3 separate regions of the Homo sapiens genome follow, and regions 2 and 3 are each linked to region 1. The links come from fine-mapping of genetic effects on gene expression. A gene starts in region 1. Each other region holds a variant in brackets. All regions are shown on one strand. Distances are between the middles of the regions.

Region 1 (8,846 bases):
CGTGAGCCGGCCTCAGCATTCCTTTGATGCCAGGCACTGTGGCAGGTGCTGGGGATGTAAAAATGAATAAGAAAACATTGTCCCCATTACAACATTATGAAATATTGGGGGTATAATTATCCCCACTTTACATCTGAGGAACTTGAAGCTACTTATGTTTAGCATCTCGGCTAAGATCAGATAATTAGAGCTTGGGGAAGACGGAATTCAAATTCAAGTCTTACTTCAAAGCTCAACCTTTGTACTGTCCCACAGGCTACACTCTATACTATCGACAGTTACTATGAGGCCAGGCAGGGTGGCTCATGCCTGTAATCTCAGCACTTTGGGAGGCCAAGGCAGGCAGATCACTTGAGCTCAAGAGTTCGAGCCAGGCGTGGTGGCTCACGCCTGTAATCCCAGCACTTTGGGAGGCCGAGGTGGGCGGATCACAAGGTCAGGAGATCGAGACCATCCTGGCTAATACGGTGAAACCCCATCACTACTAAAAATACAAAAAATTAGCCGGGCGTGGTGGCAGGCACCTGTAGTCCCAGCTACTCGGGAGGCTGAGGCAGGAGAATGGTGTGAACCTGGGAGGCAGAGCTTGCAGTGAGCCAAGATCGTGCCACTGCACTCCAGCCTGGGCGACAGAGCGAGACTCCATCTCAAAAAAAAAATAAAAATAAAAAAAATAAAGAGTTTGAGACCAGCGTAGCCAACACAGTGAAACCCTGTCTCTACAAATTAAAAAAATTAGTCGGGCATGGTGGCTTGCGCCTGTAGTCCCAGCTACTTGGGAGGCTGAGGTCGGGGGAATCGCTTGAGCCCAGGAGGTCGAGGCTGTAGTGAGCCGTGATGGCACCACTACATTCCAGCTTAGGCAACAGAGGTTGCACCACCACATTCCAGCCTGGGCAGCAGAGCAAGACCCTGTCTCAAAATAAAAGAAGAAAAAAAAAACAAAGACGTTATTTAAGGGAACCCTTTTTATAAAGTAATAGGCACCTGAAATTTCTGTTTTTTACTTTATATTTCCAAATGTTGGGTTTTCAAAAGAGTGGCACAATGAAGGAAATCAGAAACAAAACAACAAACCTTGTAAAACCTCTTCCATTTAGGAGGTGATAATTGAATTAGAGGCACTTTATCAAGCAATGTTATCAAAGCACGCAAAGTAACAAAGAATATTTTAATAGAAACAAAAATAGTAAATCCTAGAGTGAGCTTTTAATATCTGCAGCTTACTAAAAAGTTCTTACTTTCCAAAGCTCACTGGCTGCCAAAAGTTCAAATTTTATAACTAAGCAGTTTGTTTCCTAGACGTGAGTCTAATTACAAACAGAAGATCCTTCCAGTCCTATATAAAATTCTCTAAGAGACAGAAACAATAAGATTTAAGGAGCCAAAGAATCAACAATTGCATTGACTCTCCATTTAAACAGACAAAACAGAAGGAAAAGAAAGAACAAAACAAAAAATGTTCTGGCTGAGGAAACTTTGGAAAAATAATAAACCTTCAAAAATATTTTTTCTCATCCCGTTTCAAACATTCTTCTTTCAGTTAAAAAAGTGGTTTTAAAAATAATTTGGTTCTAAAGGTTAAACTTTTAGCTAATATAATTCTGTATAATTTTTAATCTATGAAAAAATAAATTATACTGTATGAAAGCAAAAAATGCTACAAATAAGTATAACAACTTCAACGTACATAATCTTAGAAAAAAATTTTATGAGCACAATAGCCCCTTCTAATTTAGGTAATTTTTCTTATCAATATTCTCAATACTTCTATCAAAGTTAATCTCTAAATATTGAAGAAGAGTGGATAGGATAGGTACCCTGAAACTTATTCCCCCTTTAGAACTTTTAGAAATCTCAATATTAAGGATGAACTATTTAAAACATATGTGTATTTCTACAATGAGGTTTTTTGTAGTTGTTTTTTAAAGACATGCTAGTGAATACCGTGGCACTGTGAAATAAAACGTTTTGTTGAGCCAGATGGAATAGAAGAATGTATCTTACCGGTAAAGCAGAGGGGAAAAGAGACCTAAAACGAGTTTTGTGTACTTTTAGGTATAGAATAAGTTTGGGGAAAATAGCTAGGAATGCTTTGGTTAAAATCTCATAAGCTGTCTTTGATTAATTCAAATGTTCTGAATTCAACAAATATTTATTGATTACCTACCACGTTCCAAGCACTCTGCACAACACTCAGTATTAACAGATCAGAAATGGTCCCAGATCTTTTGGAACTTAGAGGGTACTGAACACATCCTTCAAAATTATCCTTTCTTTTGTGTGATTCCACGGTCATCAAATGACTTCTGAAATACAAATTCACACTACCCGAAGCTTAGTACCCATAAAACAGTATATTATTATATTAGTATATTGCCAAAATTATTATATTAGTATATTGGCAAAATCAGCCTTCAAGTCAATGTATATACCCTTATTTAAATTAATAAATCATTCAGGTTTGCACATCAGTCTTTTATGAGTTTAGTTGAGTGAATCCTCAAAACTTAATCAATTCTGATTAATTGGTTAGACGTAATTTCTGAAAATTCAAAATACAGTAGCTGACAATCAAATATAGTAATAGACTATTTCCATAAAAAGATCTTACCACCAAAATGAGTCTCTACTTAGTTTATCCTCTAACAAAATGCCTTTATTTCATAATACCCTTCACAAACTGCAATTAGTTAATCCATAAAACTGTTAACAATAAATGAGATACAGCACATGAGTGCTTCTCGAACTTTGTTTTTTGTTTTTGTTTTTTTTTTTTTTTGAGACGGAGTCTTACTCTGTCGCCAGGCTGGAGTGCAGTGGTGTGATCTTGGCTCACTGCAGCCTCCGCCTCCCCGGTTCAAGCAATTCTCCTGTCTCAGCCTCCTGAGTAGCTGGGACTACAGGGCGTGCCACCACGCCCAGCTAATTTTTGTATTTTTAGTAGAGACGGGGTTCACCATGTTGGCCAGGATGGTCTCGATCTCTTGACCTCGTGATCCGCCCGCCTCAGCCTCCCAAAGTGCTGGGATTGCAGGCGTGAGCCACCGCGCCCGGCCTTCTCGAAAGTTAATGTACATACAAATCACCTACAAACATGTTAAAATGAAGACTGATTCATTATTAGGTCGGTGGCAGCCAGTGATGTCCAGGCTGCTGTCCACGGACTACAAGGATACACACCTAGCACAGTGGTTGGCACCCAGACTACTCAGCCCAGTTAACTATTTCCTCCCATTTGTAAATTTCTCATCTCCCTTACTCATCTCACCTTCCTTGGAAGCAAAGACAATGTCTTTCATTTTCGTATCTTTCAAAGTTCTAAGTAGAATGCCTTATCTACATAATGGCATTGAATATATGTATTCTGAATGAATGGCATCCAGCTTTTAACAGTCATTACTTCTATGAGTTATCGACAAAATTGTTTCTCTGAATTTACTTTAAATGGAAAAAAATTGTTCAAAAGCTGAAAAATCAGGAAAGCTCTCAGTTTTTAAAAAACGAGAAATACTGTATTTGTACCATACTCCAGTGCGTTTTTTCTCATGCTGACCTAACCAAGTCTTTTTTAAGAAAATAAATATCCATAATTACCTTGCTAGTTTATCTCCTAATGGCTTTTTTTTTTTTTTTTTTGGTAAAGAACAAAAATAAGCCATCCATTTTTCTGGGAAAGTTTTAAAATTATCCTTTTCTTTGTATGTAAGGGCATCTTCGTAAAGCTAATACCTACAAAATAATCCTGGCTTCTCAGATTAATATTACATAAAAATCACGGTATCCTTGTTATCAATAGAGAGATCGTTGGCAGTTTCATGTGTTTCTTCGCCGATTTTCTGTGATCACCGGAACAAGTGACTAAATATCTCAGGGTTCGTTTCTTCCCTTGTAAATATTAGCTGTTAACCTGACCACACTTGGTTCTATGCTGAGAAAAATGGTTTGAGAGGGTGTTTTGAGCACTCCAGAAAGAAAACAAAGGACGAATATTATTTTCACTTCCTACTTGTTTACCTTTACTGTTTCATGGCTTTTTGGATATTTTTGGGTGACTGCCAACTATCAAACACAATTATTTTTTAGTACCTAAGGGCATGGTAACAAAGGATCGGGTTTTAATCATACCATGAACTGAAAACAACATGAACGGTCTTGCAAATAAACGTAATCACTTTTTGGCTTCTCCGCACAGACAACACATCGATGCCTCCGAACTGGCGACCTTAAGCCTCGAAGCGCAGTCCCGCCTCTGCAGGCGGCCACCGCGCGGGGCTGGGTGGTCCCCTGGGAGAGGCCCGGCCGGCGCACAGCGGTTCCAAGATCTCAACCAGGTTTTGGTTTTTCGTCGTTATTAAAATTGCTGTTTGGGTGTGTGTCTTTTTTTTTTTTTAAGACAAGACACTAGGCCAATTGCGCGGCGCTAGCCGGCGGCGGGGCAGGCATTTCGGAGGACCGGGAAGCTCGGAGGCAGCGGCTGTGACCTCCAGACCGTCCTCCTGCGTCCTCATTAAGGAGGCAAAATGGTGGCCGCGAACGCCATCAGGCTGCGCCAGCGCGGGGTTTCGGCGCAAACAGAGGATCCCGTCAGATTCAGGCGGCCAGAACTCCTCCTCACCCAGGCCACCCCCCGGGGCCCACAGCCTGGACAGCTACGGGCGTGGCGCCTGCGGCACCGAGACCCCAGGCGAGAGTGTGGAGGCGGCGGCGGCTTCCCCGCGACCGTGAACAACGACGCCATTATCAGCACCCCCTGCCGGCGCCTCCGGCGCAGCCCGCGCAGGATGCAAGGCCCGGCCTCCGAGGGAGGGGGAAGGAGGACGGGGCGGGAGGAGGGGAAGAGGGTGAAGAGGGCGGGAGGAGAAAGAAGAAGGCGGGAGGAGGGGAGAGAGAAGAGGGAGGGAAGAGGGGAGAGAGGCGGGGCGGGGCGGGGGAGAGAGGCGGGGCGGGGCGGGGCGGAGCGGCGGGCCGGGCGGGCTACGGGGACGGGGGCAGGGCGACTGCTGCTGCCGGGTGGCCCCCTCCTCAGGCCGCCCTTTCCCTGCGGGTGGGAACTCCAGATGGACGAGGGCCCACCCCACCCGGCGCTTCCCCGTGCAGCCCGGGGTCGCGGCGGGCGGCGAGGGCAGCGGCTCCCCGGCTCCCCTACCTTACCTTCCCTGTCCTTCTCGTCCGCCATCTTGCTGCGGAGCCGGTCGCCTGGGAGATGCCTAACGATAACCTCGGCCGCGGTGTCCCGGCCTGCTCAGCGCCCCGCGGCGAGCCTGGCCTGGAGGAGGGGCCGCTCTGAATCCCGGGGGAGGAAGACCCTTGGGCGGGGCGGGGCGGGGAGGAGGCTCCGAGCGCGCGCCCTGTCCCCGTTTCGCGCCACGACCCTCGCGCTGGGGGAAGACCAGAGGCCCCGTCTGCCACCCGGCCCCCGGCCTTGTCCCTCCAGACCCGAGGCCGGAGCCGGACTTGTCCCGGGCCTAGCATGTTGCTTCATCACACGGTCCCCAACCCCTCCTTTCCCTTATTTCTCATCCATTTGGGGACAGCACGCGCGCGCACACACCCCTCGCCCCCTCCTGTCCTGTTTGTGCGACGTGGCGTTGCTCGATTTTTGTTGTTAACTGCAGATTTTGAAAAGCGCCGGAGAGCTAGGTGAAGAGCTGGGCTCCCAAGGGGGTGATAGAACCAGCCCGCGGCCCGGCCTCCTCCTCCCGCTTCCCATTCGCAGCCCGCCTCCCGCCGGGAAGCGGCCCGGCTGCTGCAGAACGGCCGCGCCTGCCCTCCCGGTTTCTCCCGTCCAGTCTTCACCGTCCTTTCCCAGAGAAAGCGACAGCACAGCCTATGACAACCGAAGCTAAAACGGAAAAACTGGGCCGGGCGCAAGAGGAAACCAGAGCCATTCGACTATTGCTAGAGGAGAGGAATAGCTGCAGGAAAACATGCGCAAAATAGCACAAACATTGCGTCGTCAAGGCTGCAATGTCTAATACAAAATAGAAGGTTCTCATAGCAACAAAAACGTGCCCATGTTGTGCTCAGTATTACATGCGTTAAAATGTTCTTAGTTGTGAAATTTGACATGACCGCTAGTTAAAGTTACAATGGAAGTTTTAAATCCCGCTTTCCGAAAACTTTGCAGCTATAGCATGAAGTTAAATTTTTGTCTTATTTTCTGGATAAGTTTACTATACTGGAACATAGTAAAGCTCTTTTTATAAAGAGCTTTGAATAAAATACCTAATGATGTGGTTGAAACGAACACCTATTTTCAAAACTAATCTTAAGTGGTATTTCAGTGCATATGTTATGTAAAAGCAATTTATAAACTAAATTTTAAGAGCCTTCAAAATACAAGGTACTCGTATTTAATGACTTAACAGTTTTAATGCTTTTATTGTTTCTATAATCTCTCAGGAAATCCTAAAACTGACTATATTTTTCTTTATTAAAATAACTTTTTCTGTAGAAGATACCCATTTGGCGCTGTGATCAGCATTCTACTTGAAATTGAATATAAACAACTGAATCATTACAAAATGGCTCATGTTAGAAGATACTTAAAACGAATACAATCTTGTACAGTAAATGTTTAACACCCCAAAATAACGAAAAGTAATTATTAGCATTCATTTATATCTAAATCTCAGTCAATATGATCTAAATATTTGTGTTTAAAGACTCCCCCTTTCCATATAGATAATGAAGGGCTTTGAAATAAGTGTAGGAAACCCTAAGTTTGGTCTCAGGCTTCCTATTCATTCACTATGCTTTTTCGTGTGCTGTTTACAGTTTCCTTTTTCTGGAATGCCTTTCCCTGCTTTTTTCCCCCGCCAACATTTCAGCTTCCCACAGACACACATTTGTGCCCTCCTGGTTGTCCTGCAGGATGACCTTTGTTTTTGTTTTTGTCTTTTGTTTTTCGAGACAGGGTCTCGCTCTGTCGTCCAGGATGGAGTGCAGTGGTGTGATCTCTGCTCACTGCAACTTCCGCCTCCCGGTCTCAAGTGACCCTCCCACCGCAACCTCCCAAGTAGCTGGGAGGAGCGGCGCGCGCCACCATGTCTGGCTAGTTTTTGTATTTTTTGTAGAGACAGAGTTTCCCCATGTTGCCCAGGCTGCTCTCAAACTCCTGAGCTCAAGCGATCTGCCGCCTGCCTGGCCCTCCCAAAGTTCTGGGATTACAGGTGTGAGCCACTGTGCCTGGCCAGGATGACCTTTTTGAAGTCACCTAGTCATTGAAGCTTTCCCTCTCAGCCTTTTCCTCTGTGGCCCCATGCTTATAGAGCCTCCCACATTGATTTGCAGTGCCTTCGTTCGTTCACTTTATTTCCACCTACCAAACAGTAAGATCTTGAAGACAGAAACGGCATTATTCGTTTATATATCCCCGGTATCTAGTACAATTTTTCTGTTTGCAATAATAAATGTCTTAAAACTTAAGAAAGGAGTAAGTCTTCTCAATGACTTTTTTTAAAAAAGACCCAGATTCAGCACTTATTGTATGTAAGACAGACCTTCCTTTTACATTACATTTTTCATCAGTAAAAGTACTGGGCCAGGCGCGGTGGCTCACGCATAATCTCAGCACTTTGGGAGGCTGAAGCGGGTGGATCACTTCAGGTCATGAGTTAAAGACCCACCTGGCCAACATGGTAAAACCCCATCTCTACTAAAAATAGAAAAATTAGCCGAATGTGGTGGCTCACGCCTGTAATCCCAGCTACTCGGGAGGCTGAGACAGAAGAATCGCTTGAACCCAGGAGGCAGAGGTTGCAGTGAGCCGAGATCCGCCACTGCACTCCAGCCCAGATGACAGAGCAAGACTCCATCCCCAAAAAAAGGTACTAGTATTTCATGTTAATAAAATGGAATTCTTATATAAACATATATAAATTAAAAATTATTTTAAGAGTTGAACAGATTTCTCTGCAAATCCCCCTATATTTTTATATTTTTTAAACTAACTGTATTCAGCAAAGCTTTTTATTATTTAATTTATTCCAAACCACATTAATCAGTATTTCTCTGAACTCCTACAGCACATTTAAAACAGTACTGTTTCTCTAGGTGTGGGTGAGTAAAAAAATATTTAATATATGTTAATTAACTTCCGCATCTCCTGACCCCACTAAGGTTTGAATAGGAGCCTCCCCCTTTATAAACCCTTTTTATATACCCACACTACCTAGCCTAATTGGGGCACATATTAGCTGCTTCATACATACTTTTCAACTGCCTAATTTGCTGATTAGGCATAAAAGTATATAATTCTGGAAAAGTCTCCACAAGGTGAAAATGATTATCCAAATAATAAAGGCCCACAATGCCAGTGAGTACATTATCTGCATTATGCTGATATTTGACTCCTTTCAACTCTCTTTGGTTGTAGAAACATGACCGATGATTATATTACACTTTTAACTCTTTAAATATTATTAGCTTGCTTTGGACTGTGGAAAACTAACTACAATCATTTTTATTCCTCAGAATATATTTTGCGGCCGGGCACGGTGGCTCATGCCTGTATACCCAGCACTTTGGGAGGCCGAGGTGGGCAGATCACGAGGCCAGGAGTTCGAGACCAACCTGGCCAATATGGTGTAACCCCGTCTCTACTAAAAGTACAAACATTAGGTGGGCATAGTGCTGCAAGCCTGTAGTCCTAGCTACTCAGGAGGCTGAGGCAGAAGAATCACTTGAACCCAGGAGGCAGAGGTTGCAGTGAGCCAAGATCATGGCATTGCACTCCAGCCTGGGTGACAGAGCAAGACTCCATCTTAAAAAATATATATATATATATAGATAGATAGATAGATAGATGTATATATACATATACGTATACATATACGTATATG
Region 2 (11,150 bases), 150 kb before region 1:
TGCAGTGGCGTGATCATGGCTCACTCAGCCTTGACCTCCTGGGCTTAAGTGACCCTCCCCCTCAGCCTCCCAAGTAGCTTGAACTGCAGGTGCATGCCACCCTGCCCAGCTAATTTATATATATATATATATATACACACACACACACATATATATACACACACATACACACACACACACACACACACACATATATATATATATATATATATTTTTTTTTTTTTGTAAAGACGGGGTTTCACCATGTTGCCCATGCTGGTCTCAAACTTCTGGGCTCAAGCAGTCCTCCTGCATCAGCCTTCTGAAGTGCCAGGATTACAGATGTGAGCCCCCACGCCCGGCTTCTCCCTCCTTTTTATCATTCCCTCTCCCCTCGTCTTCCTTGGCTTTCCTCCTCACACCTCCTGCGTTTGGCCCCCTTCCATTTTCTTTCTGCTTCTCTTTCCCAACTTCCCCCTCATCATGCCACAGGGACTCCTGGGCTCCGTGCCACCCCCCTGGAAGTCCCCCATAATGAAGCAGGATTTATGCCTCACACTTCACCGTGGGAGAGCAGAAACCTCTCATTTGAAGCAAAAGGCACTGAAAATAAGCAAATAGTTATGCATTTGTCACTATCAGGTCCTAGCTGGCTTCCGCCCTACCCCCCGGCCCCCACCATCTTCTTACTCATTCAGGTCATCGTGTCCTCTGATACCCAGTAATTTCCATCATTTTCTACATGCATTTCTGTTGGTCTTCTGAGAACTGTGATTTTCCAAAGCAGAAAGGGCACATCGTCTTTCCGGAGCCTGGAAGGTGCAGGCACTGATGCGTTGGGGGAGATCACAGTGTGACAAGGATGGGGTGGGAGTGTGTCACCCCCCTTTGTACCGACCCTCAGCAGTGGGGAGTGAGCAGAGGAGATAGAACCTGGGAGGAAGAGAGATTTCCAATTACTTCCTTCCCGGTCCCTTCTCCACTGGAGCCTGTTATTCCTCTGCTGCTGGGGCCTCTGAATGTTCTCTCACTGAGCCAGGAAAGAGCTTAGTGAATAAAGAACGAGGTGTCCTAGCAGTGCAGGGAAGATGTCCAGGACAGTGAGTGTGAACGTGGGGTCCTGGAGAATGTGCACGCCAGCCCTGCCGCCTGGTGGGCTCTGCAATCAGCCCCCCAAAACCATTCACCAATCACCTTAGACAACTGCGTGTGCAAAAGCCCTCTTTTTGTGTCCTTTGAAGCTTATATTTTTTTATCAGGCTGGGGGCGTGGCTCATGCCTGTAATCCCAGCACTTTGGGAGGCCGAGGCGGGAGAATCACTTGAGCCCAGGAGGTCGAGGCTGCGATGAGCTATGATCATGCCACTGCACTCCAGCCTGGGTGACAGAGTGAGGGCCCATCTCTACAAAAATTTAAAAATTAAAAAAAAAATCTTTATCAAAGAAATACATGTGCAAATAATATCAAAAGGCTTATTTTTTAAAATCCCCAGTCCTGGCTGCCCCTCCCCTCCACACCTGTCCTCCTCCCCTCTGAGGTGACCATTTTGAGGTTTTTGAGGTATTCACCTCTGCTTTTCTAAATGCGCTTGCTCTGCTGTTTCTTGATTTATCCATTTGAGACATCAGCTCTTTACTCTGTGCTGTGGTGCATGACAATTTAGCTCTTACCGTACTCACTGCTCGCTCCTCCTCTCAACAAGACATTAATAAAAATAGGAACGGGCTCTTATTTCTGGAGCGCTCACTAGGTATCAGGCACTGTTATATTCTGGCAGGGTGGCCCCCTTCCCTCCCTGATGCACTCTCCACGCGGCTCCCAGGACTCCCCACTCCCTCCCTCTGGTTCCTTCCACCGAGTCACCTTCTCGGATCCGTCCCTTCTCTGTACCCTCTGAAGGATGGGCACCCAGGGCTCGGTCCTCCGGCCCCTCTTCTCCATCTGCGCTCCCCGCCGCTCATTGGTGGTCTCACCAGTCTCGTGGTTCCGAAAATCTTCCCTGTGCTGATGCCTCCCAGAGCCCCATCTCCAGCCCTGTCCCCAGGCCCCTCAACACTGGCCCGATTTTGAGGCTGTGCCTCCAGAAGACAGAAGCAGCGTGGAGTCATGCAGTCAGGATGGGGCTGGCAGATGGAAGTCCTCGTCTAGAACTGGCCCTACCACCTCCCAGGAGTGTGGCCTCTGGTGACAGACTTCACTTCTCCACCATAAATGTTATTGCTTTCTCTGTACAAATGCTCTTTCTTACCCTGTGGATTGACTATAAGAATCAAGTCATGGCGAGGGTTTTGGAAGTGGAAAAGCCTTACGTTAGTGGAATTGGTTATTATTTCTCTTTTTTATTTTTTATTTTATTTTCAAGATGTGGTCTTGCTCTTTAGCCCAAAGCTGGAGTGCAGTGGTGCGATCATAGCTCACTGCAGCCTCGAACTCCTGGGCTCAAGTGATCCTCCCACCTCATCCTCCCAAGTACAGGCTACAGGTGTGTCACTACCCTGGCTAATTTTTTTTTTTTTTTTTGACTTTTTGGTAGAGACAAGGTCTTGCTTTGTTACCCAGGCTGGTCTCAAACTCCTGGCCTCAATGATCTTTTCACCTCAGCCTCCCAAAGTGCTGGGATTACAGGCATGAGCCACTGTGCCCAGGCTGTTATTTCTGCTTGTACTCCTCCACACTTCCTTTTCTCTCTCTTAATCTTTCCCATTCTGTCCTTTGTGATCAGCATTTATTTCACAGCCATTTATTGAGCAGCTAGTATGTGGCAGGCACCGTGGGAGCCACACACAGGGCTCTTGCTTGCACGGGGGTCACAGCCTCACTTTCAAAAGGCCTGGGTGCGCCTTGGTCTTTGTTTTCCTCTCCATTTTCTTTTTCTTTTCTTTTTTTTTTTTTTTCCTAGATGGAGGTATGCTCTTGTTGCCCAGGCTGGAGTGCAGTGGAGTGATCTCGGCTCACTGCAACTTCTGCCTCCTGGGTTCAAGCGATTCTCCTGCCTCAGCCTTCTGAGTAGCTGGGATTACTGGCACCTGCCACCATGCCCAGCTAAATATTGTATTTTTAGTAGAGATGGGGTTTCAACATGTTGGCCAGGCTGGTCTCGAACTCTGGACCTCAGGTGATCTGCCCGCCTCGGCCTCCCAAAGTGCTGTGCTTACAGGCGTGAGCCACCGTGCCTAGCCTTCCTTCCATTTTCTTTCCCTGTCACTCTCATCCTACCTTAACCCTCAATGATTCTGTTCTTTAATAGGTCTAATTTCATAAATGAAACAGATGCTTTACTCATTATATTATTGTTGAAATCCATGTTCCTTTTTAAAAACACGAGTGAATACTGCTTCTTTAAAAAAACAAAAAACTTCCCTAGAGTAAGTTTCTTTTTACTGAAGGGTCTCATATTTATCTTTTTTTTTTTTCTAGAATCATTGACCCTTTCCAGAAATAAGCTCCTTGACAAGTTTGTTTTCACAAATGCAGGCAGATATAAATATGCCGTCATATTTGTGCAATTTACAAAGTTGTACAATCCTCAAAGTAGTTGATCCTCACTTTCATCTCTTCCTAAACAAAATTGCAATCCAGAAAATAAAAATATCCCTTAGAAAACCTCCACACCTGTCTGAAGAACTTGTGGTGATAATGATCTCCGTGGAGTTGGATGAGCCTCTGAGTCTGACAAGTGTCTTCTAATCTGAAGTTTTGCACCCCTGGTATTTGTGACTATGACCCGTAATCTTCTTTTCACAGTATTAAGTGTGTCGTAGAGCCAGAGTCTGGTTGGCTGAGGGCCTGTTTCTCAAATCTGCGTGGTCATGTCAGAGGCATTTGAATCAGAGTGATGAGGGGCTGAGTAAAATGAGGCTGAGATCTGCTGGGCTGCGTCCCCAGCCTGTTAGGCATTCTAAGTCACAGGATGAGACAGGAGGTCACCACAAGATACAGGTCATAAAGACCTTACTGATAAAACAGGTTGCAGTAGAGAAGTGGCCAAAACCCACCAAACCCAAAATGGTGATGAGAGTGGCCTCTGGTCGACCTCACTGCTCATTATATGCTAATTATAATGCATTAGCATGCTAAGAGACACTCCCACCTGCGCCATGACAGTTTACAAATGCCAGGGCAATGTCAAGAAGTTATCCTACACGGTCTAAAAGGGGGAGGAACCCTCCGTTCCAGGAATTGCCCACCCCTTTCCCTCATGAATAATCCAGCCCTTGTTTAGCATATAATCAAGAAATAATCATAAAAATGGGCAACCGGCCCGGCGTGGTGACTCACGCCTGTAATCCCAGCACTTTGGGAGGCCGAGGCGGGTGGATCACGAGTCACGCCTGTCATCCCAGCACTTTGGGAGGCCGAGGCGGGTGGATCACGAGGTCAGGAGATCGAGACCATCCTGGCTAACATGTGAAACCTCATCTCTACTAAAAATACAAAAAATTAGCCGGGCATGGTGGCGGGCGCCTGTAGTCCCAGCTACTCGGGAGGCTGAGGCAGGAGAATGGCGTGAACCCGGGAGGCGGAGCTTGCAGTGAGCCGAGATTGTGCCACCGCACTCCAGCCTGGGCGACAGAGCCAGACTCCATCTCAAAGAAAAAAAAAAAAAAATGGGCAACCAGCAGCCCTCGGAGCTGCTCTGCCTATGGAGTAGCCATTCTTTACTCCTTTGTTTTCTTAACAAACTTGCTTTCACTTCACTCTATGGACTCCCCCTGAATTCTTTCTTGGGCGATATCCAAGAACCCTCTCTCGGCGTCTGGATCGAGACTTCTTTCTGATAACAGTCCTACTATCTGTGGAAGCCCTAGGGTCCTGAGGAACTTGTGAGGACAATCTGGCTTCCTGGGAAAACCCTCAGCCCCAGCCACTAACAGGGCAGGACATATGGGGAGGAAAGAGCCTTGATATCATCCCATATGTTGAAAAACAATTGCTATTCCAACTACAGTTGCTTCTGCCTTCTAAGGCAGGTGTCATGATTCATGTGATGTGAAGATCAAGTCCTTGCCTTCCCTTTGGCTTAAAAAGATTGCTGATGGAAAACTGAGAGAATTTGATTGAGTTGAGGCATAGGATAACCACCAAGTTTGTGCAGGTGCTTGCAGCCCTAAGGGGAGAGGTGCAGAATGGGTGGTCCCTTGCTAAGCAGAGGCTTTGGAAATGCCGCAGCAGGAGGTGGGAGAGTGGAATTGCTCTAGGAGGTGAGACAAGGAGCTGACATTGAGCCAGAGAGGGAGAGCCAAAACCTGGGGGAAGGCTGGGCTACAAAGAAAGGACAGAGCCAGGGAGAAATTTCCCACAGCAGTAATGGTGAAAAACACTTTTTTAAATGGGCGAATATCATGGATGCTCGTAGCAACATTTTCGTAATAGCCAAAAAGTGAAAACAGCACAAATGCTCATCAGCTGATGAAGGGATAAGCAAACATGGCATCTCCAAACAGTGGAACGAAGTGGTGTGATCCTGAGTGGGGTCTGTGAAGCACAGCAGGCTTGGCCAGCCACGGTAACCACGATGGGTCCATCGCTGGATGGGACCAGAAAGTGAATACGCCGAGGCATAGGGTTGTAGCAGAGAAAGAGGTTTCATCGTAGGGCCACCGAAGGAGGAAATGGGAGGAAACGTCAAATCCATCTCCCTGAGGAGTTTGGGGCTGGGGTTTTTAAGGGTTTGGGAGTGGAGACTGGAGTGTGGAGATGGTTGATTGGTCGAAGTGTGCAGGGTGGAGTCATGGGAGAGGGAGACGAAGCTGTATTTTCATGCTGATCACATTCCTCTGTGGGGGTCTTCAAACTGGTTGGTGTCGGCTGTTTTGCTGGAATTCAGGATCTGAAAAACATCTTAAGCAAGTCTTAAACAAAAATCTTATGATTCTAATGTCAGAGATCCCATCTATTTTAAACAAAAGCCTTGTGATTCTAAGGTCAGAAATTGTATCTATAGGAACAACGGGGATGCAAATGTTACCTAGTGCTACGTCACTGTTGGTTACAAGGAAGTGGGTCAAAGTGCAGGCTGACTGATGCTTACTTACAACTATATTTCTGTCCAGAATTCTTCTTAATCCTGTGAGGATGGCTCACCATATCGTGCTCAATCATGGTGCCAAAATGCCTGTCCTGGGGCTGGACACCTAGAATTCCCCTCCAGGCCAAGTGACGGAGTCTGTGAAGCTTGAGAACGTTGCCACTGTCAGCAAGCTGCGGTGCTCATACCATGAGAAGAGCCTGATAAAGGAGCCTGTCAGAAGACCCTCAGGGGACCACCTGGATTCCTACCTTATTCACTGGCCAACAGGCTATTTTTCCTGTTGGATGGGACAGACAACGTGGTACCTAGTGACACCAACTTCATGTCACAT[G/C]GGTGGCCACATGGAGGAGCTGGTGGATGAAGGGCTCTGAAAGCTTTTGGAATCTCCAACTGCAGCCATCTCCAAGAGATGGTAAAGAAACCTGGCTTAAGACCAGGTGTGGTGTCTCAGCCTGTAATCCCAGCACTTTGGGAGGCCAAGGCGGGAGGATCACTTGAGCCCAGGAACTCGAGGCTGCAGTGAGTTATGATCATGCCACTACACTCCAGGCCTGAGTGATAGAGTGAGACCCTGTCTCTAAATATATATATATATATATGACAGACAGAAAAAAAGAAACCTGGCTTAAAAACAGTGGTTAACCACAGTGAGTGCCACCTGCACCCACCTCAGGAGAAGTTAATCCAGGGCTGCCAATCCAAAGGCAAGGTGGTGACTGCCTGTAGTCCCCTCAGCTCTCGTGACAGGTCTGGGGGATCCCAGCACCAAAGCAATCACAGCCAAGCACAGTAAAAAAAATAAACAAATAAAAACGCAGCCCAGGTTCTGATCTGGTTTCCCATGCATAGGAATTTGGTGGTAATTCCTATCATCATTTCGGTGGTGATGCTGGAACGCACTGCTGAAAACTTGGAGGACTTCGACTTTCAACTGAGCAGCCTGATGTGACCACTGTAGTCAGCTACAACAGGAACGGGAGGGTCTGTGTCTTGGTGAGCTGTGCCTCCTGCAAGGATTACCCCTTCAACACTGAGCTTTAAAGCTATAGGTACCTGCTCTTCCCCCAGTGCCTTGCACCTCTTTTTCCTGCCTCAGTTTTTCTAGCAAGTGTAGTATGGCCTGTGTCCCTTAACGGCGGGTCAGCAACCTGCAGACTGGCCAGCACGGGTGTGGTCAGGTTGATGCTGTGTCCAAAGAGCAGTTTGTGTAGACGAGACGTCTCTTCCAGTTTTCTTTGCCCTTTTTCTTGTCCGGCTGGGAGAAGTACATCCTGAATACCCTTTTCCAGCCAAAATGAAGCAAAACCTACGGTCCAAATAGTGCCACTTGGAGTTGCGTTTTGACTGCTGGAACTGTAATCCCTGTAGCCAGTCTCCTTGCCTCAAATAAAAAGTGAGGCTTTTTATTTGTGAGCTTAACAAAAAAGAATGAACTAAGGATATACATTACAACATGGATGAACCTCAAAAGCCTTACACTAAATGAAAGAAGCCAGACACAGAAGGCCACATATTGTATGATTGTGTTTATGTGAAATGCCCTGAAGAGGCAAATCCACAGACACACAGGAAGATTAGCGGTTGCCCGAGGATGACGGTGGGGGAAGGGGAACTGCTATTGGACATGGGGATTCTTTTTAAGATGATGGAAATGCTTTGTAAGTAGATAGGAGTGATAGTTGCACAGCACTGTGAAGATACTAGAATCCATTGAATTGCACACTTGAATGGGGTGAATGTTGGCTGGGCACAGTGGCTCACATCTGTAATCCTAACACTTTGGGAGGCTGAGGTGGCAGGATCGCTTGAACCCAGGAGTTTGAGACCAGCCTAAGCAACATAGCCAGACCCTGTCTCTACAAAAAATAAAAAAAAACATTAGCTGGGCGTGGTGGCATGCACCTGTGGTCCCAGCTACTCAGGAGGCTGAGGCGCGAGGACCCCTTGAGTCCAGGAGGTCGATGCTACAGTGAGCTGTGATCATGCCACCTGCATTCCAGCTGGGGTGACAGTGAAACCCTGTCTCCAGAAAAAAAGTGGGGAGGGGATGGTGAGTGTTGAGGTATGTGAATGACTATTATATAAGCTGTTGTTTGTAAATGGGCTAATATTAAAATTTAAACTGTGTGCTGTCACTTGCTACTAAGTCACTCTGCCTCGTTTCTTCACCCTTCGTTCAAGGTGTACCACATTCAACGCCATGCTTCTGGGTACTTCTAAGCAAATGTTTGGATGAATATGGAGAGAAGAGAACAGCTAGACAAAGCAAGATACAGAGAGGAGATCAAGAGTTAAGGAAGCAGCCGGGTGCGGTGGCTCATGCCTGTAATCCCAGAACTTTGGGAGGCTGAGGCGGGAGGATCACTTGAGGTCAGGAGTTCGAGACCAGGAGGTCACCAGACCATGGTGAAACCCCGTCTCTACTAAAAATACAGAAATTAGCCAGGCGTGGTGGTGTGTGCCTGTCATCCCAGCTGCTCAGGAGGCTGAGGCAGGAGAATCTCTTGAACCCGGGAGGTGGAGGTTGCAACGAGCCAAGATCACGCCACTGCACTTCAGCCTGGGCGACGGAGCGAAACTCCATCTAAAATAAAATAAAATAAAATAAGAAAAAAGAAAAGAAAAATAATTAAGAAAGCAAAAAAGTAGATGAAGAAGTAGCTAAGACAAGCCTAAGGCCTGTGAGGCTGCTGAGGGAATTTTCAGTAGAGGAGCCAGACGGAGGGGTTGATGCTTTGCCTCCTGCTGGAGGCACTGGGACTGCGGGAGATATTTGCTGACGCTGGACAGCCCTCGTTTTGGTTCAGATCCGTACCTCTCCCCCACGCAGCACATACACTTTAGGGAAGGCCAGCCCGGCCTTTGGTAGTAGAGGTGCAGCACTGTCTCAGGCCTAAGCTAGGCAGTGATGGTTCCAACAGGGACTTGGCTGATCAAGTCAGAATAAAGTTCAAGACTGTTTCATGGCTAGGGATAGAGGTATTGTTTCCTGGTGATCTGTCTCTGCAAGGGAAAGACCATGGGCTGTCTCTGCCATCTTGAGGATATGAGGAAGGGGGCTGCCTGAAAATGAAGCCAACCCAAAGAAACAGATGCAAGAATTGGATTCTGATCATGGCATCTGAGCCCTGGATCAAGCTGCATCTGAAGCTATGTCTGCTTTTGGACTCTTCCGTTACATATAAGCCAGTTAATTCCTTTTATGGGTTGAGCTTTCTGTTACTTGGAACAGCAACGATCACATCTATGGTCAAATGATAATTTTGTAAAATACAAAGACTGCAAATACACCTCCGTATTTCCCTATTATATCACTTATTTCTTTGTTACAGGTTTATAAAAAGGGGCATAAAACTTCCTGAAAATTCTGCCTACATAACATTTGTATGAGTTTCATAATTAATAAAAATATACAAAGGTTTCAAAACTAAAGAAACTTAAGAAAAATGTAGTTGACCAAATTAATTTTGAACTGTATTTGCCCTAAATATTTTAAAAGTAGAAGTCTATGCTTGACAAACCCAGATGAACCTGGCTTAACACCATTCCTGTCAACACCTCCACTGTCCGGTCTTTGTAAAAGGCCAGGTGTCATATTGTTTGAGGCTTTAGCGGCCTGCAAGGCAAAGTGGGCCAAACCTAACATTGCTTTTAACTGGTAATCTGCCCAAATTGCATTATTCCACGTTATTCATGTATCACCCCCGAGGTGCCTTCCCATTGAAGAAATTAGCTCAGAAGCTCTTCATTTAAGGTGCGAAGTGACAGGTGTCTCTGTATCTAAAATGGAAATTATAGCAATTGCTGAAAATGTTGCAATCACTGCTTGGGTATACAAGAGACACACCCAAAATAAAATGTTTGAAAAATGCTGAAAATAAAAGGATAAGCAAAAGTCTACCAGGCAAAAGAAAATGAGGAAAAGGCTGAAGTCTAGTTCTACATGAACCAGAACAGCCACTGCAATTTAAACTCGAATTTCTGTTCTGAACAGCATTTTTGTCAGGAAAAAAATACAAATAATAAACAAATAAATCAGAGTTTCTGAAAGATGGAAAACTGCTTCCATATTCTTGAGAAGGGAACTGGTTAAATAAAATATGGCACATTCACGCAATAGAATACTACACAGACATTGAGATCGATGAGGTGGGTATTTATACAATTAGGAACTGAGCGTATGGGACCTGTTGCTTAGTGAGAAAAGTGTGATGTGTAGAGATGCGTGAAGGGCGCATAAGGATGCTACCTGCCTGTTCACACAAGGATTCCCTGGAATCGGTGCACTCAGGGGAGAGGGATCCGAGTGGTTTTGGGACACATTTATAAAAAAAAATTAGTTTTTACTCTATGAGCCTTCATACCTTTTGAATTTTGTACCACATATATTTTATTCATTCAAAAAAATAAATTAGGTCAGTTTCTTTTTTTACATCTTTCAGATTATGGTCATCCATCTTATTTTAACTAAATGGCCAACAGCCTCTATCTGATGCCCCAGCATTATCCACTGGGTTCAGTTCCTTGCTCTTTTATTTATTTACTTATTTACTTATTTTTTATTTTTTTTTGAGACGGGGTCTCGCTCTGTTGCCCAGGCTGGAGTGCAGTTGCATGATCTAGGCTCACTGCAAGCTCCACCTCCTGGGTTCACGCCATTCTCCTGCCTCAGCCTCCCGAGTAGCTGGGACTACAGGCACCTGCCACCACGTGTGGCTAATTCGTTCTATTTTTAGTAGAGACGGGGCTTCACCATGTTAGCCAGGATGGTCTTGATCTCCTGACCTTGTGATCCGCATGCCTCGGCCTCCCAAAGTGTTGGGATTACAGGCGTGAGCCACCGTGCCCAGCCTCCTTTTTTTTTTTAGACAGGGTCTTGCTCTGTTGCCCAGGCTGGAGCACAGTGGCGTGATCATGGCTCACTTCAGCCTCCTGCCTTAGCCTCCCATGTAGCTGGGACTACAGGCATGCATCACCATGCCCAGTTACTTTTAAATTTTTTTTGTAGAGACAGGGCCTCGCTTTGTTGCCGAGACTGGTCTCCAACTCCTGGCCTCCTGCCTCGGCCTCCCAAAATGCTGAGATTACAGGCATGAGCCACTGTGCCAGGCTCAGTTCTTTACCCTTAATGGTTACTTT
Region 3 (11,150 bases), 170 kb before region 1:
GAGATGGCAAGGATGATTTTCAGGCATATGAGCTGGGCAAGAGAGATGAAATACCATTTCCAACAACAAGAAAAGTGGGAGGAAGATGATGCATTTGATTTAGAAAAGATATGGCCACAATACACATATACACCATGGAATACTATGAAGCCATAAAAAAGAATGAGCTCATGTCCTTTGCAGGGACGTGGATGAAGCTGGAAGCCGTAATTCTCAGCAAACTAACACAGGAACAGAAAACCAAACACTGCATGTCCTCACTCGTAAGTGGGAGTTGAACAATGAGAACACATGGACCCAGGGAGGGGAACATCACACACCGGGGCCTGTCGAGGAGGGATAGCATTAGGTCAAATACCGAATGCATGTGGGGCTTAAAACCCAGATGACAGGTTGATGGGTGCAGCAAACCACCATGGCACATGTATACCTATGTAACAAACCCGCATGCTCTGCACATGTATCCCAGAACTGACATTAAAAAAGAGAAAAGATATGGCCACAATAATCCAGTTGTCTTTTCCCTCTGAAGCAAAAGTCCCAGAGAGAGAGTTAGCCTGTGTGCCCACTTCAGGAATCCCAGCATGTCCAGCTAGAGTCCCCATGGGGTCTAGCTTCATGTCGTCTTGGGAGAGGGGACCCCAGCACTGGGAAGATCATCAAAAGACACTGGCTGATTGCTGTTGGGAATAGAAGAGCCATTAAAGAAAATGAACTGAGAATGTGTGCTTAATTAAAAAAAAAAAAAAAAAGTTGTGATACTAAGAACTCTGTAAAGAACTGCCAGAACAAAGTTGCCGTGGCCAGGAGTAAGGCACGGGCTGTCTCCACCTAAGCCATACGAGCCGCAGCAGGTGCAGCAGCTTCAGCTGTGGGAGCGATGGCCACCAGAGTCAGCCGTAAGGGTGGTGGGCAGAGAAGCACACACAGCCCAGAGAAGGGCTTCAAAGACCGTGGTGGAGACACGGAAGCAACCTGAGGACCTGCTCAGGGAAGAGAGGGACTTGCTGGGGTGTGGGATTCCAGGATTCCTCCAATGAGGGCTTAGAATCAAGACCCATTTTTCTAAGCAGTGCTGTTGTTGCCCCCTGGCTTGACTGTCATCTCACAGCTGTGTGCTGCCTGAGGCTGGGCACCAGCACGGAATTGCTAAAGCCTCCACCATCACTGCTGCAAATGTTCCCTTTGCCACTTCCCCCTTCACCTCATCAGCTGCACAGAATCTGCCATCACGTCTCCATCCTCTCAATTCTAAAGGTTCACTAGAAAATCAACAGTTCTGATCTACTCACATGGGGCCCATTCAACTCATGAGTTGGAAATGCAGTGTATCTGGATGGAGGAACAGACAGGTGGATAGATGGGTGGGTGGACAGATGGGTGGGTGGACAGATGGATGGACAGGTGGATGAGTGAACAGACAGGTGGACAGAGTGGGTGGACAGATGGACGGATGGGTGGACGGGTGGACGGACAGACAGGTGGGCAGATGGGGGAGTGGACAGATGGACGGACAGGTGGATGGACAGACGGGTGGGTGGACAGATGGACGGACGTGTGGATGGACAGACAGGTGGACAAAGTGGGTGGACAAATGGACAGACGGGTAGATGGGTGGATGGACAGACAGGTGGACAGAGTGGATGGACAGATGGACGGACGGGTGGACAGGTGGACGGAGAGACAGGCAGACAGACAGGTGGGCAGATGGGTGGGTGGACAGATGGACGGACGGGTGGGTGGACAGACGGGTGGGTGGACAGATGGACGGGTGGACAGGTGGACAGACAGGTGGACAGATGGACAGATGGGTGGGCAGACAGACGGGTGGGTGGACAGACAGGTGGGTGGACAGATGGACGGATGGGTGGACGGGTGGATGGATAGATGGAAGACGTATGACCTTGGGTGAAGAGAGGGATCAGGTGAGAGTAACTGGTCAGTAGATGCTCCTAGGTGGGGACTGTAGCAGCTCACAGTTTCCTATGAAAAGGCTGAGATGGAGAGCAAGCTGTGACCCTTCCTGCTACTTTTCTAATTTTAAAAAAAATCACAAGATTTAAGTGTAAAGCTTCATTTAAAAACAACAGCATAGGTAAGTGTTGGGGAATTCAGGAGTTATGGTCTCCACAGCAACATTCACGTGGCCACCCAACTACTAGCAAATAAATGAAATTAAGCATTTCTATTGCCCTTCACATTCAGCCGTATGCTAAGCAGTCACTTTATTGGTTTATAATTCCTCACAGCCACCCGTGAGGGAGGCAGCCTCCTCGCTCCCACAGGAAGGATGAGGACACCAAGTCCCAGGAGAAGAATGATGCCCAGAGAATCCCGTCATGGGACGAGCCGGGACAAGCCGTGATGAGCCATGACAAGCCGTGACAAGCCATGACTAGCCATGACTAGCCGTGACTAGCCGTGACTAGCCACAAGGAGCCGTGATGAGCCGTGACTAGCCGTAACTAGCTGTGACTAGCCATGACCAGCTGTGACTAGCCCTGACTAGCTGTAACTAGCTGTGACTAGCCATGACCAGCTGTGACTAGCCATGACTAGCCATGACCAGCCGTGACTAGCTAGCCATGACCAGCCGTGACTAGCCGTGACTAGCCATAGCTAATCTGACTCTGTGTGTAACAGCAGGCTGCAGGGTGCAATGCCACTCACAAGGTTGCAGAGAGAGCCGAAGACAAATCATTATTAAATGCCTGCTGTGCACTAGGTCCTGCTAGTGAGTTCTTTTCAAGCTCCTCCCAATGAAGACTGCATCTCAGGCAACTAAAGAAGCAGTAATAAAAGCCAGGGGCCACAATGCTCTGAGTGGGCAAGAACAGGTGAAGAACAGGTGAGAGGAAACACCCCACAGCCCCAGTTTGGCTGTGCTCTCTTATGTCCAGCTTCACTGCTGCACACAACTGTGACCATGTCCTAAGAGAAAGAAGAAAAAAAACCCACTAATGGTTCATGAGAATGAGGAGCGAGGAAGATCCAGGTCCTAGAGAGAGGAGGCTGTCTTGCGTACTTGATCACCTTTGGACCGTTTCACTCATTCCACAGATGAAAAGTCCCCAAAAGAGGTGAGAGATGTTTACTTAGATAAAACTTTCACTGTAGCGAATCTTAGCAAATCTCAGCTCCCAGAAGAACACAGGTGCATGGATTGAAAACACAACCAAATGCTCTAGGCCACAAATTGTGACATGTGACCCACAGGCCCCAGGAAGGGAGGCCTGACACCAGCACTGGCTCTGGCCTTAGCTCTCATCTTAATGTTCTTTAAGGGGGAATAAAAAGCAACAGATAAAATGCAGGGATGAGCTAAATCGAGAGGTGTTGCCAACACACCTGCAGAAGGGAAAATAAAGTGTGAAAATATGGAGTCTCAAAAGTATGAGAAAATCAAAGGCATGAAGGCAAGCCAAAACATCAAACTTCCTACTCACGGAGACAATGACCCTGACTCTGCATGGTAGACATTTGGAAAGCAGTTCTTGGCTAGGTGCAGTGGATCACACCTGTAATCCCAACACTTCGGGAGGCTGACGCAGGAGGATTGCTTGCGGCCAGGAATTTGAGACCAGCCTGGGCAGCATCCTAAAACCACATTGCTATTTTTTTTTTTTTTTTGAGACAGTCTTGCTCTGTCACCCAGGCTGGATTGCAGTGGACCAATCTCAGCTCACTGCAACCTCCGCCTCCCGGGTTCAAGCGATTCTCTTGCCTCAGCCTCCCAAGTAGCCAGGACTACAGGCGCCCGCCACCATGCCCAGCTAATTTTTGTATTTTTAGTAGAGACGGGGTTTCACCGTGTTAGCCAGGATGGTCTTGATCTCCTGACCTCATGATCCACCCGCCTCGGCCTCCCAAAGTGCTGGGATTACAGGCGTGAGCCACTGCGCCCAGCCAATTTTTTTTTTTTTTCATTAGCCAGTTGTGGTGTACATCTATCATCCCAGCTACTCAGGAGGCTAAGGTGGGATGATCTCTTGAGCCCAGGAATTCGAGGCTGCAGTGAGCTATGATCATGCCGCTGCACTTCATCCTCATCGACATAGTGAGACTATCTCTTCAAAAAAAAAACAAAAAAAACAGCCATACAAAAGCATGAGATCATGTCCTTTGCAGTGACATGGATGGAGCTGGAGGCCATTATCCTAAGGAACTAACTCAGAGACAGAAAATCAAAACTGCGTGTTCTCACTTGTAAGTGGAGGCAAAACAGTGAGTCCACATGGACATGAAGATGGAAACAGTGGACACGTGGCCTCCAAAGTGGGTGGGCAGGGACTTGCAGGGAGCAAGGGTTGAAAATGTACCCATCAGGTATGATGTTCACTCTCTGGGTAATGTGTACACTAGAAGCCCAGTATACAATGTACCCACGTAACAAGCATGCCCATGTACCCCCTCAATTTGAAATAAAATAAAATTTTAATAAATAAATAAAGCAGTTCTCCCTAAAGACAGGCAAGAGATAATGGAATTAATGTAAACTTTAATTTACATTAATTAAATGTAGTTAATGTAAACTTTAATTTACATTAGTTATGTAAATGAATAATTTACATTAATGAAATTAATTATGTAATTAATTACATAATTAATGTTCAGAAATAATGTAAACTTTTGCTACATTAAGGGAGGCCTACTTCCTGCAGGAAGCGTCTCTCGATGAGTCCCACTGATCCATGACACTCTTCACAGTCCCTCTGGGACTGCAATCTGATCTTCCCTAATCACTAACAATATAGCTATGCACGTGCTATCCATTTGTGTTTTTATTTGCCCTCTTTTCTCTATTAAATTGATTACTCCTGAAGAGTTCTAAACCCACTGTGCAGAGCTAAGGTGCAAAATGATTGCTAATTACAGAGCTCTGACTCAAGATTTGAGACACCCATTTAAGGGTTCAAAAATCTGTGCATTATAACCATTCGACTCTAAGCTCCTTGAGGCTGGTAGCCAGGTCCTTAATCTTTGTGTCCCTAACACTCAGCACAGCACTGGGTGTGGCTCTGGTTACAGGTATATGGAGGAACTCAGTATGTATCATGAATCTAGTGCGTTGCTTTCATGTGAAATAGCTCAGTTGAAACTTTTTCTTTTTTTTTTTTTTTTGAGACAGAGTCTCCCTGTGTTGCCCAGGCTGGAGTGCAGTGGCGCAATCTCAGCTCACTGTAACCTCTGCCGCCCAGATTCAAGCAATTCTTCTGCCTCAGCCTCCCAAGTAGCTGGCGCTGCAGGCACCCACCACCATGCCTGGCTAATTTTTGTATTTTTAGTAGAGATGAGGTTTTGCCATCTTGGCCAGGCTGGTCTCAAACTCCTGACCTCACATGATCCATCCACCTCGGCTTCCCAAA[C/G]TGCTGAGATTACAGGCGTGAGCCACCGCACCCAGCCTGAAACTTAATCTAAAATATTGCATTCTGTTCTGAACATCTTATTGCCCGAAAGATAAATGTAGTGTATGATCACAGTAATTAAACAACTTAGAAGGGATGGCTTCAAAGTGAAGACTGAAGCAACTAGAATATGTATAAAATCTAAAAATAACTGGTAAAACAAGACTGTTTTCAGGAAGTCCATGTCTAGGGGTGAGAACAAAGAGAGAAACACACCTAGTTTAGGAGGTTTCAAAGGAGGGATGGATTTAAATTAAAATTAAGAAAGTGTAGGCAAGCTTTCAAGGTGAAAACAATGACCGTAAAATCTAGCAGACTGTGAAGTCATCTTCCTTAGTTACTGGAGGCCCATCACTGTTGAATTTTAAATGACACCTGGAAGATTCTCTAGTGCAATATTCACTTCTCTGCCAGCATAGAGCATTATGCTTTAGCAGTTTGGTTTTCAGAATAATTTATACTAAGTGATTAGGACTTCCCCCATATTCTTCTCTGGATAAAGTTAACATCGTTATTTCACTTAGAACTGTGAGAAGCCCCAAAATACAAAAAGCCTAAATGATATGCCAACACCACCAAAGAAGTTAGTGTGGCAGGGAAAGGGTTCGAATTCCAAGTTGCAAGCCACACTTCTCCCTACTTACCCCTCTCCGTGCCACAGTGAACAAGCGACTTTGCTGTTGCAGGATTCCCTGACCCAGAGCAACATACTTCTTGAGACCTACTCATGGCTTCTGTTTTGACCTCCCAAGTGCTACATTCAGGTCATCTTTATTTTTATGTTATTGACAAATTTACATAGACGTTTAAAGCCTTTCCTTCATGTATGCTCTTGTAGCTGAGATGCCCAGAACTGGTGTTTCCACCCCTTTATGGGGGAGGGGGAATGTAATCTAATGTTTAGAAGCTCAGGCTCCAAAGTCAGAAAGCCAGGGTTGAAAATGTGGCCCCACAGCTTTCTAGCTATGCAACCTTGGGCAAGATACTTAGCCTCCACTTTCTCTTTCCTCATCTATAAAATGAGGATGAAGACTGGGCACAGTGGCTCACTCCTGTAATCCCAGCACTTTAGGAGGCTGAGGCAGGTGGATCACCTGAGGTCAGGAGTTCCAGACCAGTCTGGCCAACACGACGAAACCTGATCTCTACTAAAAACACAAAAATTAACTGGGCGTGGTGGCGTGCACCTGTAGTCTCAGCTACTTGGGAGGCTGAGGCACGAGAATCGCTTGAACCCAGGAGGCAGAGGTTGCAGTGAGCTGAGATTGCACCACTGCATGCCAGCGTGGGTGACAGAGTGAGACTCTGTCTCAGAAAAAAAGAAATGAAATAAAATAAAATAAAATGAGGATGAATAATAATGCTTGCCTCATGAGGACTAAATTCGGTAATTTATATGAAAGGCTTAGAATAGTACTGGACACATAGTACAGCTCAATACACTTAAGCTATAATCATTACCTTTTGGTAATTTAAGGTAGACATTCCCTCCACATGTGGACTCTGAAATCTGACAGACCTCAATCCTTGAAATTCATCTGCATCATTGATCTCTTTCTTGGAGAGTCTCTTCCCACAAAAAGGATAACTTGGGGGGAAGCAAGAAGAGAACACAGGGTGGCATCTTCTGCCTCTGCTGGGTCGTCGGCTGGTTCTCCACTCTGGTGTGCCAGCTCTGTACTGGGGAGTAGAAAGCCTGGGGACTATATTTCCCAGTATACCAACTAGGAGCATTCCAACTTAGATTGGGCCGCTGAGAGGCACTCGAGTGAAATTTGGAAAATAGAAGAGAGGCAAGCCGGCTTGCTGCTCCCCCTTCAACAGGTGGCAAACACGGCAAGCATGAGTTTGCCTTGGCATTTGAGCATTTCCCCAGTGAATCCCACCTTGGTACTGCAGGCAAATGTGACCCTGGCAATGGTTTCTGCAGGTTCTGAAACTTGTTGTTTTTCCTGTAACTGGTGGTGGGCCTGAGGGCAATGAATGGCTTTCCTGAACCTTCGCACCTCTAGCCTTCCAGTGATTTTGAAGCTCTAATTCCTAGATCCCTAAATCTCTTCTTGCTTGAACAAAGAAGAACACTAGAGAAGTTACATTATGTGACTTCAAATTATACTACAGAGCTAAAGTAACCAAAACAGCATGTTACTGGCATTAAAAAGGACACATAGACCCCCGGAACAGAATAGAGAACCCAGAAGCAAATCCACACACCTAAAGTGAACTCATTTTTGACAAAGGTGCCAAGAACATACACTAGGGAAAAGACAGTCTCAATAGATGGTGCTGGGAAAACTGGATATCCATACACAGAAGAATGAAATTAGACCCCTATCTCTCAGCATACGCAAAATTCAAATCAAAATGGATTAGAGACTTAAATCTAAGACCTCAAACTGTTACAAGAAAGGAGTCTTGATCCAGACCCCAAGAGAGGGTTCTTGGATTTCGTGCAAGAAAGAATTCAGGGAGAGTCCAGAGAGTAAAGTGGAGGCAAGTTTATGAAGAAAGTGAAGAAATAAAAGAAAGGCTACTCCACACACAGAGCCCTTGGGGCTGCGGGTCGCCCATTTTTATGGTTATTTCTTGATGATATGCTAAACAAGGGGTGGATTATTCATGCCTCCCCTTTTTAGACCATATAGGGTAACTTCCCAACATTGCCGTGGCATTTGTAAGCTGTTACGGTGTTGGTGGGAGTGTAGCAGTGAGGATGACCAGAGGTCACTCTCGTCGCCATCTTGGTTTTGGTAGGATTTGGCCAGCTCCTTTACTGCAACCTGTTTTATCAGCAAGGTCTTTATGACCTGTATCTTGTGCTGACCTCCTATCTCATCCTGTGACTTAGAATGCCTTAACTGTCTGGGAATGCAGCCCAGTAGGTCTCAGCCTCGTGTTACCAAGATCCTATTCAAGATGGAGTTGCTCTGATTCAAACGCCTCTGACAAAACTGTGAAACTACTGCAAGAAAACATTGGGGAAAATCTCCAGGACATTGGTCTGGGCAAAAATTTCTTAAGCAATACTTTGCAAGCACAGGCAACCAAAACAAAAATGGACAAATGGGAACACATCAAGTAAAAAAGCTTCTGCATAGCAAAGGATGCAATCAACAAAGAGATGAGACAACCCACAGAATGGGAGAAAATATTTACAAACCACCCATCTGACACGGGATTAGTAACCAGAATATATAAGGAGCTCAAACAACTCTATAGGAAAAAGTCTAATAATCTGATCAAAAAATGAGCAAAAGATTTGAATAGCTATTTCTCAAAAGAAGACATAGAAATGGCAAACAGGCACATGAAAAGGTGCTCAACACCATGATCATTAGATAAAGCAAATCAAAACTGCAATGAGGGCCGGGCGTGGTGGCTCACGTCTGTAATCCCAGCACTTTGGGAGGCCGAGGCAGGTGGATTGCCTGAGCTCAGGAGTTCGAGACCAGCCTAGGTAACACGGTGAAACCCCGTCTCTACTAAAATACAAAAAATTAGCTGGGTGTGGCAGTATGCACCTGTAATCCCAGCCACTCAGGAAGCTGAGACAGGAGAATCACTTGAACCCAGAGGTGGAGGTTGCAATGAGCCAAGATTGCACCACTGCACTCCAGCCTGGGCAACAGAGCAAGACTCCGTCTCCAAAAAAAAAAACAAAAACAAAAACAAAAAAACTACGATGAGATATCATGCCAGCCCAGTTAAAATGGCTTACATCCAAAAGACAGGCAATAAGAAATGCTGGTGAGGATGCAGAGAAAAGGGGACCCTTGTGGGTGGGAATGTAAATTAGTAAACCACTGTAGAGAACAGTTTGGAGCTTCCTCAAAAAACTAACAATTGAGCTACCGTATGATCCAGCAATCTCATGGCTGGGTAGATACCCAAAAGAAAGGAACTCAGTATATTGAAGAGATGTCTGCACTGCTGCTTGTTACAGCACTATTTACAAGAGCCAAGATTTGGAAGTAACCTAAGTGTTCATGAACAGATGAGTGGATAAAGAAAATGTGGTAGATATGCACAATGGAGTACTATTCAGCCATAAAAAAGAATGGGATCCAGTCATTTGCAACAACATGAATGGAACTGGAGATCATTGTATTTAGTGAAATAAGCCAGGCACAGAAAAACAAACATCACATATTCTCACAATTAAAATAATAGGACTCATGGACATAGAGAGTAGGAGGATGGTGACCAGAGGCTGGGAAGGGGAGTAGGGGGGTGGGGATGGTAATGGGTAAAAAAAAAATAAAAAATAAAAAAAAGAATGAAAAAGGCCTACTATTTGATAGCACAACAGGGAGACTGTAGTCAATAATAACTGTACATTTTAAAATAACTTAAAGAGTGTAATTGGGTTGTTTGTAACTCAAAGGACAAATGCCTGAGGGGATGGACACCCCATTCTCCATGATGTGCTCCTTTCACATGGCGTGCCCGAACCAAACATCTCATGGACCCCACAAATACACACACATACGATGTACCCACAAAAATTCACAAGAAAGAAGAGAAAAATCTCTTCTTGCTTGAAATACCTAGAGCGGCCTCTGTCTTTCTGATCGATTTATTGCCTGAAGGAATGGAAGTCTCAATATACTCATTCAACAACTATATTGAGTGCCTAAAAGCAAGGCCCTGCTCTGGGTGTTAGGAATACAGCAGCCAACCAAACGGAAAGAGACCTGCCCTCCTGGAACTTACATTCTAGCGGAAATAAATAGGAATTGATAAGGGCAGGGCAGGTAGGACAGAGAGTGTGGGGTGGGGCAAGGGGCATCCTTATTTCCTAGGGTATTTGGGGAAGGTTCATTGCTAACAGGAGATCTGGGCTGGGACCTGCAGGAAGTGAGAGCCCTGGGCAGGAGGCTGTGTGGAAGGGCATTTAGAGCAGAGCGGATGCCGGCAACAAAGGCCCCGAGGCAGGAGCGCGCTCGGCGTGGTCTACGTGAGGAACAGCAAAGTCAACGGGCCTCTGCGGCTGCCAAGTCAGGGGAGAGCAGCACGAGGTGATGGCAGAGGGATACTGACAGCCAGCCTGGACATCCCATGGGGGCCGTGGTAAGCCCTTTGGCTTTTACTCCAAGAAAGATAAGAGGCCAAATGGAGGCTTCAGAGCAGAACAGCGACACGTCTGTTTTATGTTTTATTCAGATCACTGTGACTACACGTTGGGAACATAGTTACAGAGGCAAAGACCAGGAAGGATGTCATTGCAATCATCTAGATGACAAATAAAGGCAGCTTGGACCAGGCCAGTAGCCATGGGAGGAGGAGCACTGGAGATAGATGATATAGATCTAGGTGTAGATATAGGTAGATATCGATGATAGATATCGATGATATAGATAGATATAGATGATAGAGATAAATCTATATGTGGGTGTATTTTTAAAATTGTGATAAAGTCCATATAACATACTTCCCTGGCAGGGAAGGTGCCATGATCATGAAGATGGTTTTCCCAGAGTGAGGCTCACCCACTGCACTCCAGGTAGGCTGACCCCTGCCATTTCTCCAAATGCAGGAAACTCAACTGCATAATTTGTGGTAGTGGGGGACTTTGTCCACGCTTCTCCTGTGTCACTCTTGTCCAATGAGAGATCATAACTTGAAGTCGGTGGTCTTTATTGTATAATTTATTTATTATAAAAATGCATACAACATAAAAGCATCTTCAGCGTTTTGGAGTGTACACTGAGTGGTATTACATACATTCACATTGTCGTGCACCCA

Evidence for each region. PIP is the estimated chance that this variant, and not a neighbour inherited with it, causes the effect. A credible set is the group of variants that fine-mapping cannot tell apart.
Region 2: its variant is the best candidate, but not a certain one, in a credible set for the expression of DRC8 in whole blood (TOPMed, PIP 0.88).
Region 3: its variant is the best candidate, but not a certain one, in a credible set for the expression of DRC8 in prefrontal cortex (GTEx, PIP 0.52).

Annotation. Positions count from the first base shown.
Region 1 is chr1:244,966,752-244,975,597 of GRCh38, reverse strand. It overlaps DRC8 (dynein regulatory complex subunit 8), which reads right to left and starts at 5,916. Exons shown (of 8, transcript NM_032328.4): 1 at 5,555-5,916; 2 at 5,155-5,269. The coding sequence starts at 5,179. LOC124900416 reads left to right here and starts at 5,028. Exons shown (of 4, transcript XM_054328428.1): 1 at 5,028-5,272; 2 at 5,274-5,343; 3 at 5,346-8,625. The coding sequence starts at 5,061. The coding sequence ends at 5,612. It overlaps EFCAB2-AS1 (EFCAB2 antisense RNA 1), which reads left to right and starts at 4,729. Exons shown (of 2, transcript NR_111907.1): 1 at 4,729-4,786; 2 at 5,619-8,846. RefSeq lists enhancers at 4,254-4,623, 7,062-7,566 and silencers at 4,794-4,883, 4,894-5,253, 5,264-5,443, 5,714-5,853.
Region 2 is chr1:245,119,365-245,130,514 of GRCh38, reverse strand. LOC124904572 (a long non-coding RNA gene) reads right to left here and starts at 1,303. Exons shown (of 2, transcript XR_007066991.1): 1 at 670-1,303. It also overlaps a transcript of DRC8 not described here. The variant G/C (reference allele first, on the strand shown) is at 6,343.
Region 3 is chr1:245,133,773-245,144,922 of GRCh38, reverse strand. It overlaps the pseudogene RNU1-132P. Among named protein-coding and RNA genes, the nearest start is that of KIF26B, 16 kb to the left of the region's middle. The variant C/G (reference allele first, on the strand shown) is at 5,367.